Linked DNA regions of Homo sapiens: region 1 is linked to region 2. Evidence: fine-mapped expression QTL. A gene starts in region 2. The other region holds a variant in brackets. All regions are shown on one strand. Distances are from middle to middle. Region 1 overlaps KIRREL3 (kirre like nephrin family adhesion molecule 3). Region 2 holds the start of KIRREL3 (kirre like nephrin family adhesion molecule 3).

Region 1 (5,370 bases), 530 kb before region 2:
TTGAATGGTGTCCTCTCCAAATTCTTGTCTACCAGGAACCTCAGAATATGACCTTATTTGGGAATAGGGTCTTTGCAGTTTAGTTAAGCAATTAGTAATTAGTTAAGGCTCTTGAGATGAGGTCATACTGGATTCAGAGTGAGCCTTAAACCCAATGACTGGTGTCCTTGGAAGAAGAGAAGAGAGTCTGCTGGGTGTGGAGGCTCATGTCTGTAATCCCAGCACTTTGGGAGGCTGAGGTGGGAGGATTGCTTGAGCCTAGGACTTGGTGACCAGCCTGGGCAACATAGGAAGATCCTGTCACTACCAAAAAAAAAAAAAAAAAGAAAAAAATTAAAAAAAAATTAGCCAGGCATGGTGGCTTGTGCCTGTAGTCCCAGCTACTTGGGAGGCTAAGGTGAGAGGATCACTTGATCCCGGAAGGTTGAGGCTGCAGTGAGCTGAGGTTGTGCCACTGTACTCCAGCCAGGGCCACAGAGTGAGACCCTGCCTCAGAAGAAGAAGAAAAAGAAAAAGAAAAAGAAGAAGGAGAAGGATAAAGAGAAAGTGAAAGAGAAGAGGAGGAGGAGGAGAAGAGGAGGATGAGGAGAAGACAGAGAGAAACAGAGAAGGCCAGGTGAAGGTGGAGGCAGAGATTGGAGGGATGCTGCCACAAGCCAAGGAATGCCAGGAGCTGCCAGGAGCTGGAAGAGGCAAGGAAGGATTTTCCCCTGGAGCCTTTGGAGGGGCACAGCCCTGCTGACACCTTGATTCCAGACTTGTTGGCTTCTACAGCTGTGAGATAATTGATTTCTGTTGTGTCATGCACCGAATTGTGGTGCTTTGTAATGGCAGCCCTAGGAAGCAAACCCATCTTAACTGCTGGTCTCCCACCTTCCCAGGTCATTGCTTTTCTCTACTGGGCCACAATGTCATTCCGAAGCTAGTTCCCCATTGTGGCTGCTACCTCCTTCCCTCTCCTGTTCCTCTTTGCAGCTACTTCCCCATCACTTTGGGGCGCACTAAGTCAGGTGCACCCCGGGGAGGGTGTGCTGAGTGTGTGTGGGGGTGCACTTCCAGGTTGGGATTGGGGTCTGGTCAGTATGCAAAGGCTTCTGCTACTAGGAGGTACTAGGAAGGAACCTCACTATGGGTGCAGTCCTGTTTCCCCCGACTGGAGCCAGGGAGTAGATGAACAGACCACTCCTCCCTCAAAACCTCCCATAAAGTGACAATGGCAATGTCTCTAATTCTTATGAGGGCCCCGGAAGACAGCAGCATTATCTTTGATTAGCCAAAGAGAAACCTGTGTTCCAAGTGAGCCGGGAACTTGCTGGGTGGAGCTAGGATTTGCACTTAAGAATGGGTGAACCCTGAGCCACAGCCTCTGCTGCAGCCCCGGGGGTGCTGGACGGTGGGTACCGTGCTCTTGGCAGGACAGATGGGAACAGTTAGGGCCACAGGGAGAAACCTGTAAGCTCCTAGAACCCCACATTCTGGGTCCTTAATTCAGTGAGGTTTTTCTCAACTTGGGGCAAACCTCGTGGCGTCAGGAGAACAGGGCCAGAGCCTCTATATAGAACAGCACATCTTGCTGGAGGCAAAGCCGGACTGTGACATTCTAGAGAGCCACGCGGTGCAGCTGCAGGCCTGGGACTCAGGGTGCCAGCCACGGCCCTGGGCAGAGGGGCTGGAGGAGAGTGACGTGGCCAGATGCAGCAAGCCGGGGGCAGGACCACTGCAGAGGAGTGAAGTTGAACCCCAAGCCAAAGCCCGGGCAGGGAGGGAGCAGCAGCTGGCACCGCTTTACCACCCTGCCTTGGGCTCTTCAGCAGACCTCATCGAGTCTATAAATAGCCAAGTGATAATAAGAACAATTTCCTGGATGAAACTAAGACTTCGGGTAGGGCGCGCAGGGGCGGGGAGGTGGTGAGGAGCAGGTTGGTATTCTTCTTCTCTTCTTTACATTTCCGTTGTGCTAACAAGGGACATTTACATAAGCTTGACTCTGCCAGGAGCCCTTCCAACGGATGGGCTCTGGGCGGTGGGTGCCAGTGGCAGGGGAGGGAGGGGACCCAGCTCTAATTAGGCCCTCTGACTGCTCCCCCTCCTCCCTGCACCCAGCGTGCTCCTCCGCCTCGGAATGATGATTAATGACATATTTACTGGGTCCAGGCGTGTGCTTTTCTGGGAAATAAAAATTCTGGTTCAAGTTGTTTGTTCCACCTAATTAGAGAAAAAGGGAGATGTGTTCATTAAACAAAAGGAGGGTGAGGGGAAGGCACGTGCCCCAGCACCAACACCCTCTCTGTCCCCGTGGAAGGTCCCAGCACCTCCTGGGCCCCTAGCTCGCGGGGGACCCCAGGCCCCGTGCAGCGGGTATCCCAGGGAGGAAGGCTGGGTCTGCCAGCTCTGCTGCAGGACGACTGAGGGGAGGAAGGTGGGACAGAGCTGGGGGGCCCAGGGGGAAGGCTGGAGGGAGCCCTGCACCTGCAGGACAGGGCGGGATGTGGAGGGGCACGGGGGATCTGCACCCCCGGGTTTCTCTTCCCCCATTCCTTTCTGATCTCGCCTCTCTTGTTTCTTTTGCTTCACTCCTTTTCAGAAATGAATCTCCCCTAATTGTCACTTTTCTCATATGCAAATGGAGCCTCTGGACTTTGCAGCCTTGAAGGTACTGTCCAGGAGAACATTCTATCATCTGCAGGTTCTAGTCGCAGCTCCACTCCGCCCCTCCCTTCCCTGCTTCCCTTCACTGAGCTTGGCTCTGGGGACACACCATGGGCATTGAACCTCCCACCTCCTGCTTCAGAAAGCTTCATGCCTTGCAGGT[G/A]AGCTCCAGAAGGAAGTGAGTTATTCATGGTGGGCCACTCACTGTGGGAGCCACCGCCTCCAAGGCCTCCCTCCAGTGTGGTGAGCACTAACGTGCTGCCAGCCCCCGGCTCGCCCAGGTTGCCCATGTGACTGCCATGGTGGCTCCCAAGAGTCCCCGAGGACCCAGCTCCTGTGTGTGCAGATATGGGCCAGGGGCAGGCATATAGATGGCGTGTGTGCAGCATGTGTCCGGGAACGAGCGTGCCAGGGCATACACCCCCGTGGGTATGTGCGCGTACCTGTTTTTGTCTTTGGGTGTTCATGGGCCTCTGTCCACTGACTGCCGTGACTCTGCGGGGCCCCAGGTTCTCTCTGGACGCTGCCTGCTCAGGTGCCGCCTCAGGGCTGTGCACCCACCCCCACTGCCCCTCCCTAAGGGCAGGGATTTGGCACTCACTTCTCTAGTTCCCCAGCACCGGCCTGGGAGGCCGGTCTTCCCAGGTATGGTTGTACACAGTGTACCCCACCCCATGGTTTTCCTGCTTGGGTGGCAGTGGCTGGCCACTCTGCTCTTTCCAAAGCCCCCAGGGCCTCCTCTGGGCAGTGGAGAGCCAGGCTGAGCTCTCGGAAATGGGTGGGCTGGAGGGCAGACAAGGGGTGGGGGCCCAAGCACTGGTGCTAAATATGGGGTGCCCGATGACAGGCAAACCGTCTGGAAAGGCCGAGAGTAGCCTGATTGCCTGGCAGCAAGGCCGCCTCGCTTCTCCCCGCTACTCACCTTCCCCACCTGCTGGGTCCCTTTTTTTTTTTTTTTAAAAAATCATGGCTCTGCTTCCCCTTTTGATAGCTGCTTGGGGCTCCCCATGGGCTGGTTGCCACCTGGCTTGAATAAGGGTGTGTGGGCCAGGTGGAGGATGCGCAGTGCTTTTTGCCCCAGTCCCTGCATCCAGCCTTGAGGCCAGAGGCCAGAGGGGTGCCCTTCACAGAGAAGGCCAGGATGAGCCTCGGCCACACCCAGTGGAGACTCTAGGCCCCTAAGCTGGGCAGATAGGTGCAGGGTGATGGGTGAGTGACCAGGGAGGGGGTGCCCAGTGGAGGGTGAGGGCCCTATGCATGTGGGCACTTATCCCTTTCCTGAGTGGGGTCTCCAGAGCTCCTCTTAGCAAAGGTGGTAAAAGGCGAGGCCAGTGGTCCTGGTGGTAGGGGTAGAGGGCAAGGGGCTCCAAGCAGACACAGACACGACTGTGCGTGCTAAGACCTTGCAACCCTCCTGCCTGGCAGGAAGCTGCACTTAGGAAGGGTTCTTTCTGGGCTCAGCCTGTCCTCTCGCCCCTCCTCTTCCGTAACCCATCCTTCCTCCCCTGCTGTGTGGACTTGGGGGCTTTCCAGAAGAAAGAATGTGGTCTCCACTCTGGCGCCAGGCCCTCAGAAGTATGAGGAACAGGGAAGGAACCCACTGTCCCCAGACAGCCCAGGGTTGAGTCTCCAGGAAGAAGCTTGGAGGGGCCTTTTCCTGCTCTGTGCCTCTGCAGCCGACACCCGCTGGGAGCCTGCAGTGGGCACTGCCCAAGGCCCCATCCGGCAGTGTGGCTCGCCCTGCACCCTGGAGGCTGTGACAGTGGCCTGTTAAGGAGAAGCATGGCCAGCCTGTGCTGGGGGAGGGACTGGGTGCTTCCTCTCCTGCCCTTCCTCCTGGGGAAGGGGCCTGGTGCCCTCCAGGGCTGAGGCTCATCCCTCCCCTACTGGTCCCATGGTGGAGTCACAGAGAGAATGGTCGGTGAGCAACCCAGAAACTTTGAGAACAGGCCTGGTGTTTTATGAAATAGCTGTATGACCCCTGGGGCAGGGAACTGGGGTTCCCCCTGTGGGACAGGAGCCAATAATAGTAGCTCACATTTATCCAGTCCTTACTCCTGCCCTTGACAGGGTGCTTCTGATGCATAATTTCTTGTAAGTCACTCTGCAACCCTAACAGACATCCGTGATCATTATCACTGCATTTTGCAGCTGGGGAAACTGAGGCAGAGGGTGACATCACCATGTTATGTTACGGATCCCAGGTTTGAGCTAGGCCTTCAGAACCATGTGGCCAGCCTAACTATGACACCGATGTCTGCATATGGGAAACGCGAGGTCCATAGTGGGGTGGACCTTGCAGCCGTGTGGATCCAGTGAGGGGGTGACAATCCCAACAGCAGTGCTTGTTGCAAGCTCGCTATGTGCCAGGCGTGTTTCTCATTCAACTCCTCACAAGCACCCCTTAAAGTGGGTGCTGCTGTCGTTCCCATTGTATGGCAAGGACAGGGAGGCACGGCAAGGTGAGGTCACGCAGCTGGAAGGTGGCAGAGCCCGGATCCAAATTCAGGCTGCCAGCTCCTGAGCCCACGGGGATAATCATCCACCATGTGACAGCCACTGAGGGCGTCAGACCCGACAGCAGCCAGGGCTGCCCTGAGGGGTCTTTTCTGGGGTCCTTGGAGGCTGCCTGATTTTGTGTGTGCTCCCAGCTTCTCTTCCTCTCTGCGGCTGATGCTCTGGCCCCTCCTCATATGTAGCCTCTCTGGGGAAGTCAGGAGT
Region 2 (5,370 bases):
GGGGATCACAGTGGAGCCATTTAGAGCCATGTGGGCTAGACCTCCCAGGACCTGTTAGACATGGATGCGTTCTATCCAATAAGTTGATGAATGCATGACACTGGGTAGAGGTGGGGCACAGTACATGAGCTAAGCATATATGTGAGGATGGTCAAATAGAATCCTCTGGGGAATTCATAATGCTCAAAACAACATCCACATAAACAAATTTCCACAGATCAAGGCAAAAGATAACCATATCACATTGCAGTGAAGTCCATAAAACACCTTCCCACTTGATGGCTGGACCCCTTGATTCCCATAGTCGGACACTGTCTATTCAAGAAGCACACCATGTACAGGGATGCAGGGTATCTGACCAGCCATGTCCACTTGGGTCTCCTCATTTTTGTTTAGACCTGTTTTCCAGCCTCTGGACCAGGTATCTACCATTTGGTAGGGTGGACAGTGATGGCCAAGCTCAGAACACTCCAGGAGCACAAGGCATTAAGAACTGCATGATGTTATGGTTTCTTCCTAGCGCTCTCAGGACTCGGGGTAGATAAAACAGAGCATTTAACCTCCATAGGTAAATATTTAAAGATTCACATGAAGCAGTCAAGAAACAGCTCCAGACCAAGAAAGAAATAAGCACAACAGAAGATGTACACTGTAATGATTCAGACGGCCAGGGAGGTACTTAGACACCTATAGCCTTCTTATGCCAATCTACATAAGTATCACGGATCAAGCTTCTAACTACACAAAAGGCTGATTAAAGCATGCACTGGTCCCATGCAAATGTGAGTTTGTGTGTTTACGGGGGGTTGGTTGGAAGATTCCCTCCTTCTCAGGGGTTCTATATCAAAACTTCCTGAGTGAACTGGTAAGAAGCAAAGACGAATGGGAGTGTGTGTGTGTGTGTGTGTGTGTGTGTGTGTGTGTGTGTGCTCATAAGCAAGCACATACACATCCAAGAAAGAGGGTAATCTTACCAAATGGTAATATAACTGAACCTGTCTCTATACCAGTGTTCTGAGAGAGTTCTTATTCATTCAGCCTGAAACTCTGGGGAAGGCAATTTATCTTCCTGCTGCTGTAGGGAGCCTTGGTGAGAAGCACACAACCATATGAATACATGAGTGTGTGTGTGTGTGTGTGTGTACATACATTATCATTATACACAGGCATTAGTATGCACATACAAATATGAAGAAGGAGCCCCTTCGGTTTCATCAGGAGGACCAGAAGCAAAGTTTGAACTGCACAGATAAGGAGAAAGTCTGCAGTGACCACAAGCACGGGTGGAAGAGCAGAAGAAGGAAGCCAGGTTTTTGCTTATATTTGGCTTCTCCCCGACAGGGGAGAAACAGAAGACATGCTGTTTGCTTGCAAAGCCAGCCACCCATGGCAGTGCTTTGCTTTCTCGAAAACTTTTACCCTTCATTTAATCAACAGATGGACGTGCTCTGTTGTGGATTTTTTCTGAGTCTTGCACCTCTAAGAGCTGTGTTGGCTGGCACAAATGCAGCCTCAGATGGCAGAGGTGCATTGGCATTCCAAAAGAGCGGGAAGGAGCCCATGTACTTGCCCCTCCAAACTCAATTCCACAGGTGACTTTTGATGCCTTTGGCCAACTAGGCACTCACATTCCCTCTCCCGAATTTCCCTCTCCTTTCTGCACCACTACCAGCCCCAGGGCTCCCAGTGGCAAGGAGCCTAGAGGTGGCAAAGTTCTTTCCGGAGAGTCCACCTGCTTCTCTGCCCCTGCTAGGCTGCAGAAAGGAAACCATCAGCACCACGGGCGAAATTTCATTTTATACCCTGAATTCAGTGCTGTGTAGGATTCAGAATTCAACCTAATTTAGGGAACTCGATGACGTTCAATGAAACTCTTTACAAGCTTTTCCCAACCACTGCAAATTACCCCCCACAATACATTCTGTAATTGCAACCCCCTTTTCAACGGTGCAAACCACACACATTCGCTTTTGAATACACTTGTGCAAGTCAAACCCTATTCAAGCTGAAATATCCACCTAAACCAAGCTCTCCCTCCCTGCCGTCTCCTTCCCTGGCCTGGGTCTGAAGGAGAGGAGGTGCCCAGAAGTTCAGAGCGGCATAACCACAGAGATACTACCTAATTAACATACCAGAAGCATAAAGAACTCATTTGCATTGGAGAGTTTGAGCTGGATATTGACAAGTGAGAGGAGAAAGTCATTCCCCTCCCCTCCCATACCCCTTCTTTCCAAAGGAAAATAAACAGTACCATTTTGTTGCATTCGCAAAGGCGAAGAGGCAATGCCAGAGCATCTCAGCCCGGCACCGAGAGACGCATCCATCAGTCCGAGTTCCCGAAGCCTGCCCACGTTCCTGCCCACAGCCTCCCGCGCCCTGACAACCCAGCCGACTTTCTTCCAACTCCAGCAGCGCAGGGGTCCTACCTTGACTGAAGAGGAAGAAGCAGACGAAGAGCAGATCGAGCTGGAAGGGTTTCATTCCTTAGCGCAGCGAAGGAAAGCCGGCGGGGTAACTTGGCTGTGGTTAGTTTCTCTTCCTTGGCGGCTCTCGGTGCTCAGCCTCCGCCGGTCCTCTCGGGTTCGCGCCTACCATCTGTCCGTCCGTGGGTCCCTCCGGGTGGCTTCGGTCTCTTTGTGCCTCTGGGTATCTGCAGCCAGCCGACACAAACTGCCTGTTCTTAGCCGCCTCGGGAAGCCGGGATTGTCAGCAATGTCCCCACTCGGAGAAGATCCATTCTCTGGCTCTTGGCATCCCAGGCACACGGCTTCCTCAGGCGGGCTCCTCCCACAGTGAGCGAGCGAGCTAGTGACGAGTGACAGAAGGACTCCTTTCACTGAAGCTGAGGCGAGGGGAGAGGGAGGGGAGACAGGTCATAATTAAAGAGGAAACACTCGGAAAAAGGAGATCTATGCAAAACGGACAGTGGGGGAAAAGGCTGTGTTCTTTCTTTTCCCTAAATAGGGAAAAATTCAGCTTTTGTCACCATTATTGACCAAAAGGCATCTTGAGCTTGGAGTGGAGCTGTGACTTTTTGTCCACACGATGTCCTGTTTAACAGTGAAGTTAAGGATGACTATCCACATGCATGTGCACAAAAACATGCACGCCCTGCCTTTGCAAAGGAACTGGAAACTGGGCTGAAAGGGAACTAGGAAGGGGGGGTGCGCATCTTTCCCTCGGAAGGACTTGGCCAATGTGTGCAGCGGGAGGCTCGGAGTTGGAGAAGAGATAAGCATGCTTTGCATTTCTGAGAGTTTCCTGTGGGTGGGTGGGTGGTTGTGGTGGGGGGGGGGGGTAGGTAATAAAACCTGAACATTTGGATCTTAGTTTGCTTTGCACTGCTCCTGGAAGACAAAATGCAGGAACTAAAGGGAAGGCAAGTAGGCTTGTGACACACACCCATTTATTATCATTATCCTGGTTTGTGCATTTCCTAACGAGGACAGGGGAGCAGCCTGTCTTTGCATTCAGAGCCTCTCCTCTAATGAGCGCTCCATCACTCTGAGCCTGTCTTTTCTCCAAGAGGTGCTGTGAGTCCAATTGCAAAGGAGAGGCCAAGGTCATAGACAACTGCGTCCTAAGGATCTTCAAGCCTTTTACCTGTCATGAAATTCACACTCCACACTCAAATCAAACTCGGTTTCCTCCAGGATATCAACATGAATTTATCTGGGTCTATTTACTTAATAGACATTTAGGCATGCTTGGTATAAGCAGGCCATGGAGGGAAGCAAAATAATAGGCACAGACCATGCCTTCAGAAGCTCATAATCTAGTGTGCAAGCAGAGTACACACACAAGATGCAAACTCTAAGGACATAACAAAACAACACAGAAAAATATTCAACGTTATGCACTGTGAGAAGGAGAGGTAAAGAGAGAGGAGAGGAAAATGAAAGACGCTCCCCTGACATGTGCCATTTAGCATTCAATTCTAAAATCAGTCATTACTGTCTTCAGTCCCTGGACCTTGGGGAGGTCTTTTGGGAAACTCTTAGCCTTTCCTCTTTCAGTAGTAGCACATCTTTTGAGGACTCTGCTCACTACAAGGCACATTCCAACTCCAAGTTTCCATGCGGATGTTAACTTTAAAAAATTATCCCTTGGTATTTGTGAACAAGAAAGAAAGAAGCAGGGGCATATAGAAGTGTGCTAGTAGGAGCTGACATCTGGTAGTTGACACCAAAGATCTACAAATTAGTAGGTGTCTGCTTTGTTGACTTTTCTATTCTTAACTTAATAGTTTATTTAACTGCATCCCTTAGAGGCTGTTAAACACAGCAAAGGGAAATTTGTAAGCAAACTTTGGGAGGAGAAACAGAAATGTTGAGCAACAGAAACTAAAAGGACACAAAAGAGGCAGCCCATTAGCTAAATTAACAAACAAGTTACTGAAGCAGTGTCAGCTGAGCCTGAGTCCATTAGCCTGGTGTAACAGATCATGCAATAAATGGAAGAGGCAAATCAAAAACACACAGAGGAGATGAAAAATAATTTTAAATAACATATGCCAAATAACACAGTAAGACTGAAAATAACTCTATGTATAGCGCCGTCACCTTAGTAGTAGCTTTGCATTAAGCCTATGGGGTTGTTGGGGAGAAATTTCAGGTGTCTGCGTGCCATTCTTGCAGGGAATAGGACAAATACTAGAATGCAGATTCTCTATCAAAGGTAGCAACATTTGACGTTTTAACTAAAGATTTATCCTTTAAGCTGTTGTTTAATTTTGAGTGCTAATTCCTCAATGGCCCAGGGCCCAGATTTGCTTAATTCAGCCCCCGAGGGAACTATTACAAAACCAGGGTCACAAGGCTAGTGAAGTGTGCAATACGCAATAATCAGGCACACGTACAGGTGTCTGCACTCCACACTCGCACTGACTCTTGGAAAGAAGAGGGGGGCCTGGGAGATCCAGGTTGGAAGGATCTTGTTTCGCTCTCCCATTGGCCCCCAACACTGGCCTCATGGCCCCCTTACTGGCTCCAGGCATCCCCCTCACCCCCACCAACGAGCCAGCTGGGCCTGTTCCCCTCTCCACTCCCCTCTACTCCCTCCCTGTAACCTCCGGTCTCCCGCAGAAAGAAAGAAAAAAAAAAAAGCTTGGATTAAGTGATGAGCTGCCCGCCTCTAAAAGGACCAGGAGGCGTATCAAGCCTGAGTGCCGGAAAACCCACGGCAATCTTCAGCAGCCACCACGTGGGGCAGAGAACGCGAGCAGTACCTGCAGGACCCACAGCCGGTCGGGCTCTGGCGCCAGCCTCGACGGCGGCCCCGCCATCTCCGCCCGGCTGCCCGCGGCCTCACCTCCTCCGGGGGCTCGGTTAGCCTCCTGGCGCTGCAAGGCTGCCTGCGCGCGGTTCGCTC

The links. PIP is the estimated chance that this variant, and not a neighbour inherited with it, causes the effect.
Region 1: its variant is fine-mapped to the expression of KIRREL3 in whole blood (TOPMed, PIP above 0.99).

Annotation. Positions count from the first base shown.
Region 1 is chr11:126,464,038-126,469,407 of GRCh38, forward strand. The region is part of intron 5 of KIRREL3 (kirre like nephrin family adhesion molecule 3); the gene reads right to left. Among named protein-coding and RNA genes, the nearest start is that of KIRREL3-AS1, 77 kb to the right of the region's middle. RefSeq lists enhancers at 1,650-1,709, 2,257-2,806, 2,807-3,354. The variant G/A (reference allele first, on the strand shown) is at 2,813.
Region 2 is chr11:126,998,029-127,003,398 of GRCh38, forward strand. KIRREL3 (kirre like nephrin family adhesion molecule 3) reads right to left here and starts at 2,742. Exons shown (of 17, transcript NM_032531.4): 1 at 2,427-2,742. The coding sequence starts at 2,481. KIRREL3-AS3 (KIRREL3 antisense RNA 3) reads left to right here and starts at 4,882. Exons shown (of 3, transcript NR_040078.1): 1 at 4,882-5,370.